2 linked regions of the Homo sapiens genome follow. The protein of the gene in region 2 purifies or fractionates together with the protein of the main gene of each other region. This does not show direct contact. Each region holds a gene or a part of one and is shown on either strand. Other genes may lie near its edges.

The links. The genes of interacting proteins can lie anywhere in the genome.
Region 1: the proteins of FAM162A (region 2) and HACL1 fractionate together in Homo sapiens (co-fractionation; one large-scale study listed by BioGRID). This does not show direct contact.

What each region holds. Positions count from the first base shown.
Region 1 is NC_000003.12:15,591,554-15,595,215, forward strand, and holds part of HACL1 (2-hydroxyacyl-CoA lyase 1), read right to left. Parts: intron 128-3,662; coding exon 47-127; intron 1-46. UniProt on the Homo sapiens protein: Peroxisomal 2-OH acyl-CoA lyase involved in the cleavage (C1 removal) reaction in the fatty acid alpha-oxydation in a thiamine pyrophosphate (TPP)-dependent manner.
Region 2 is NC_000003.12:122,408,079-122,410,566, forward strand, and holds part of FAM162A (protein FAM162A), read left to right. Parts: intron 1-1,660; coding exon 1,661-1,753; 3' UTR 1,754-2,488. UniProt on the Homo sapiens protein: Proposed to be involved in regulation of apoptosis; the exact mechanism may differ between cell types/tissues.

The DNA of each region.
Region 1 (3,662 bases), about 110 Mb from region 2:
AGTGACCTTTTTAAGAAAATGTTTTCAGTAATAATAATGTCATTACCAGCAGTTCATGTTTGCATTTGCCATACCGCCCAAGGCATGGATGAGACCTGGGCCAGAAACAACAAGGCAGACTCCTGGCCTAAAAGCAAAACAGAATTTATTAAAATCAGGTCAAATGTAACAACTGATTCATAACACTTTAGTGTGAAACATGGCAATCTTGGACTTCAAAGGAAGGACATACAAGTCTTTACTATAACTGATAAAACAATTATTAGAATATTTTTAATTAAAAAACAAGGCGATATATATATATCGCGATATATATACATACACACATATACGTATATAGTGTATACACTATATATGTATATAGTGTATATATACGTATATACGTGTATATATACACACACTATATACATAGTGTATATATATACACACTATATACCTATAGTATATACTATATACGTATATATACACACACTACATACGTATATATACACACACTATATACGTATATATACGTATATACGTATACGTATATATACACACACTATATACGTATATATACACACTATATACGTATACATACGTGTATATATGTATACATACGTATATACGTATACATGCATGTATATATGTATACATACGTATATATGTATACATGCGTGTATATATGTATACATACGTATATACGTATACATACGTGTATATATGGATCCATATATACGTATACATACGTGTATATGTATACATACGTATATATATGTATACATATATGTATATATACTCTGGGCACCAGAGTATACTCTATATATATGTATACATACAGACACACGTATACACACACGTGTATACATGTAGACACACGTATACACACACGTATGCATGTAGACACACGTATACATACACACACGTATACATACACACACGTATACATACACTTGTATACATATACACTTGTATATACACTTGTATACATATACACATGTATACACATGTACGCACATGTGTGCGTGTATACACATGTACGCACATGTGTGCGTGTATACACATGTACGCACATGTGTGCGTGTATACACATGTACGCACATGTGTGCGTGTATACACATGTACGCACATGTGTGCGTGTATACACATGTACGCACATGTGTGCGTGTATACACATGTACGCACATGTGTGCGTGTATACACATGTACGCACATGTGTGCGTGTATACACATGTACGCACATGTGTGCGTGTATACACATGTACGCACATGTGTGCGTGTATACACATGTACGCACATGTGTGCGTGTATACACATGTACGCACATGTGTGCGTGTATACACATGTACGCACATGTGTGCGTGTATACACATGTACGCACATGTGTGCGTGTATACACATGTACGCACATGTGTGCGTGTATACACATGTACGCACATGTGTGCGTGTATACACATGTACGCACATGTGTGCGTGTATACACATGTACGCATATGTACATATATACTCTGGGCAAGAGTGAGATGCTATCTCAAAAAAAGTGTATATATACACACACATATACATATATGTGTGTGTATATATACACACACATACGTATATATGTATATATACACACATACACACATACGTATATATGTGTGTATATATACACACATATATATGTGCGTGTGTGTATATATATACACACTTTTTTTTTGAGATAGCATCTCACTCTGTTGCTCAGGCTGGAGTGCAGTGGCATGATCAGGGCTCACTGCAGCCTCAACCTCCTAAGCTCAGGTGATCTTCCCACCACAGCCTCCCAAGTAACCGGGACTACAGGCAGATGCCACCACACCCGGCTAATTTTTTGTATTTTTTTTTGGTAGAGATGGGGTTTCACCATGTTGCCCAGGCTGGTCTTGAACTCCTGGGCTCAAGCAATCTGCCTGCCTTGGCCTCCCAAAGTGCTGGGATTACAGGCATAAGCCAGCATGCCTGGCCCAAAAAAAGAAAGATATCGGATTTCTTGTGAGAAATAAGGTACCTATCATTTTCACACCTTATGTCTCTAACCACTTATTTTGATCTGGACTACATCTGGACTAAATCAAGTTAATGGTATACAGAAGCAAATTTTTGACTGCTGAGTTCATTTTTGTATGAAAAAAGGTTTTTTTTTCATTTCTTAACAAATAAATATAACGTCGACTGATCTTTGATAGGAAAGTAATTCTGAATGCAGTGCTCTGCCCAAAATGTTTTGTGTTTTTTTTTTTGTCTTTTTTTTTTTTTTTTTTGAGACGAAGTCTCGTTCTTGTTCCCCAGGCTGCAGTGCAATGGTGTGATCTCGGCTCACTGCAACCTCCGCCTCCCGGATTCAAGTGATTCTCCTGCCTCAGCCTCCCAAGTAGCTGGGATTACAGGCATGTGCCACCACACCCGGCTAATTTTTGTATTTTTAGTAGAGACGGGGTTTCACCATGTTTGGCCAGGCTTGTCTCCAACTCCTGGCCTCAGGTGATCCACCCGCCTCGGCCTCCCAAAGTGCTGGGATTACAGGCATGAGCCACCGCGCCTGGTCCCCAAAATCTTTTAAAACTGAATTTGAGGCTGAGCACGGTGGCTGACGTCTGTAATCCCAGCATCTTGAGAGGCTGAGGCAGATGGATCACTTGAGTCTAGGAGTTCAAGACCAGCCTGGGCAACATGATGAAACCCTGTCTCTAAAAAATATAAAAACTAGCTGAGTATGGTGGTGCACACCTGTAGTGCCAGCTACTTGGGAGGCTGAGGCAGGAGAATCGCTGGAACCTGGGAGGTGGAGTTTGCAGTGAGCCGAGATGGTGCCACTGCACTCCAGCATGGAGACGACAGAGTGAGACTCCAAATAAATAAATATTGAACTTGAATGTTTTACCCTTCAGTGTGACTTTCTAAGCTTAAACCACTCGGGAAAAAGGTATCTCAATATAATTCAGTTCACCATTTTACACTTATAAAATAATTTCTTAAAAATTTCTGTTTAAGACAGACTTGAAAATAAGTAATTACCACCAAGTAAACTAAACTTCTAGAACAGTACTATCCAACAGAACTTTGTATAGTAATAGAAATGTTCTGCATTTGCAGTATGATACGGTAGCCACTACTGACATGGTTACTGAGCACTTGAAATGTGGCTACTACAAACTGATAAACTATGATTTAAATGTTATTTAATTTTAATTAATTTAAATGTAAACAAGTCATACGGCTCGTGGCTACTATACTTGCCAGTGCAGCTCCAGAAGTTCATTCAAACAGCAAAAATGTTTTAAATATGAACTTTTCGGCCGGGCATGGTGGCTCACGCCTGTAATCCCAGCCCTTTGGGAGGCCAAGGCCAGCAGATCATGAGGTCAAGAGACAGAGACCATCCTGGCCAACATAGTGAAACCCCATCTCTACTAAAATACAAAAATTAGCTGGGTGTGGTGGTGCATGCCTGTAATCCCAGCTACTGGGGAAGCTGAGGCATGAGGATCGCTTGAACCCAGGAGGCAGAGGTTCCACTGAGCCGAGATTGCACCACTGCACTGTCCAGCCCAGATAACAGTGCAAGACTCCATCTCAAAAAAAAAAAAGTATGAACTTTTAACCATTCTCTTAATCATTGTTCTAGCATTTTTTACATTAAGGCATTAATTAATAACTATAAT
Region 2 (2,488 bases):
CGAGCCACAGTGTGAACCTAGACCCAATTCAGGTAATAGGAAAATTCCTCCCATTTATTGAGTGCTTATTATGTAACAGGCACTGTTAAGCTCACTTAATCACCCCCATAACCCTAAGAGGTAAATAGTTTTCCCAAACTCACACAGCTAACAAGTGGCAAGATAAAAATCTAGACCCAAGTTTGCAGGTTACCAAACCTCATACTATACTATCTTGCTATTAAGCCATAGTTATTTTTATATTCAGCAGCTTTGGTCAAATTCTTCTTTTAATACCATGTATAATTCTATATATCACAGCTTCCATGTGGAAAGTGATGTCTTACAACTACTTTAAGATACTAAAAAGGTCCTTCTATACACGCACTCTTAACTGACTTTCTTATCCTCAGTAATTCCAGAGTAAAAGGAAATGTACTTTTGGCTGTCTTCATTCTTGCAGTTAAATGGAAATACTGACCATTTTAGGCTGACCTCATGGGAGTACGAAGGGGCAAATGTGCTGAGCTGGGTGAAGTTCTCTTGAAAACTCTGTTCCCACCCCACTTCATTTTTTCTTGTCTCCCTCTTTGACCTCTCATGCATAGTTCTCAGATTAAAACCAGCAGAAACATGTGGACAGGACTGTGAGCTTCTAGGATTCTGAGAAATTTGCATTGCTTTTGTATACTCGATTGTACTAGCTGAGTTTAAATACTCCAGAAGCAAATTATTCACCTGGAATCTCTTCTAGCATCATCCAGGGGTATATGCTGTGTATTTTAGAGAGTTCTTCTCCTGTTCTTTACCATAAAATTGTAACATTTTAGTTTTATGGAATTTCTGTTTCCATAAATACTACTGGAATGGAGAACTTTTGAACTCAATGTGATTTGGAAGAGAAAAATTAGCCATTGTATATTTTGCTCTCACCATCAACTTCCCTTTCTCCCCCCGCTCCCCCACCCCCCGCCACATACCCAATTCTTTTACATATGAAATTACACAGATAGAAGGAAATATCAGCTTAGGGTGCTAGTTTCACTATTTGGTATAAAAGTGTTGAAACTGGCCTGTATGTAAGCTTCATAGAAATCTGACCGTTTACATGGAGGGAAACAAGGGAAGAGGACGGTTGCCTCCCCCACTCAAAGGTTGGAATTGTAGTACAGATACTCGTGGAAATCATCAATGGTAGTATTTGGGTAAAGTCTGGGATTCCCAAAGCTGAATGTTTTTGGTAAAAGAGAAGTGAGGAACTAGAAGGATCTGAGTATGCAGATAAGTTGGGGAAGGAGAAATGGCAGCAACAGAGAAAAGTGAAAGAAGAAAAACGGGATAGAAATGGCAATGAGAAGGTATTTAGTATAAAAGAGAAGTGGGGTGGAATGAGAAGAAAGTATAAGAGAAAAGGAGAGGATAAAGACTGAAAGAAAGGGGCCAGAAGGGAAGAAAAAGGAGAGGTGTGGCACTTCTTACTTATGCTTGAGTGGATGAGCTGCTGTTCTTGGAAGCGTACGAGGAAGTTGAAGCACATAGAGGAAACTGCCGTGCTCAGTGTGCAAGCAGCAGAGGACTCCATGCCTCCATGCCTCTGTTAACCTGCTGTCATCAGTGCAAGGTAAAGACACCCTCCCCTGACCAGCATACAAATCACCTGTTCAAATCTGTTTTGCTTTAGGCTGCCCAAAGACACGAGACTTTAACAAGCTTGAACTTAGAAAAGAAAGCTCGTCTGAAAGAGGAAGCAGCTATGAAGGCCAAAACAGAGTAGCAGAGGTATCCGTGTTGGCTGGATTTTGAAAATCCAGGAATTATGTTATAACGTGCCTGTATTAAAAAGGATGTGGTATGAGGATCCATTTCATAAAGTATGATTTGCCCAAACCTGTACCATTTCCGTATTTCTGCTGTAGAAGTAGAAATAAATTTTCTTAAATAATGACTGTGTTTTATTGTTTTGATCCAAGTCAAGTGTAGCCTCTCAGCCTTTTGGAGAAAAATGAAACAATTTATTTCAACTTGAATACCAACTCTTCAGAGAAGCAGGTACCATATCTTACTTCTCTTCCCATTATCAAAGTAACCTCTCCACAGGCGAACTCATTTTGAGGAGATAAGGAAGGCCAGTTGAGTATATGGCCCAGGTGCAGCTTGGAGGGCCAGCCTTCTCAAATGTCCTGGTGTACTGGTGGGGAGGCTGCCCCCTAATAGAGCGAGCGCTGAGAAGCAGCCAGACCACATTCTATAATCTTTGAACATGCTGGCAGATGGAGGCTTTTAGGAGAATAGTTTTTTAAACATTCTGACAAGGTCCAGCCAGGAATTTCTAAGGACTTAGAAATCCCAGCGTCATGGAGTTGCTTGGGGTCAACACAAGTCACCTCTTAGCTTCATGCCTTAGAATTCTCAACTGGCTGTTTTCTTACCACCTGAGAAACTAAATTTCTCAATTATAAAAATCTCATGTATTATTACTGTTAGAAGTATTTGCACCTCATATATATCT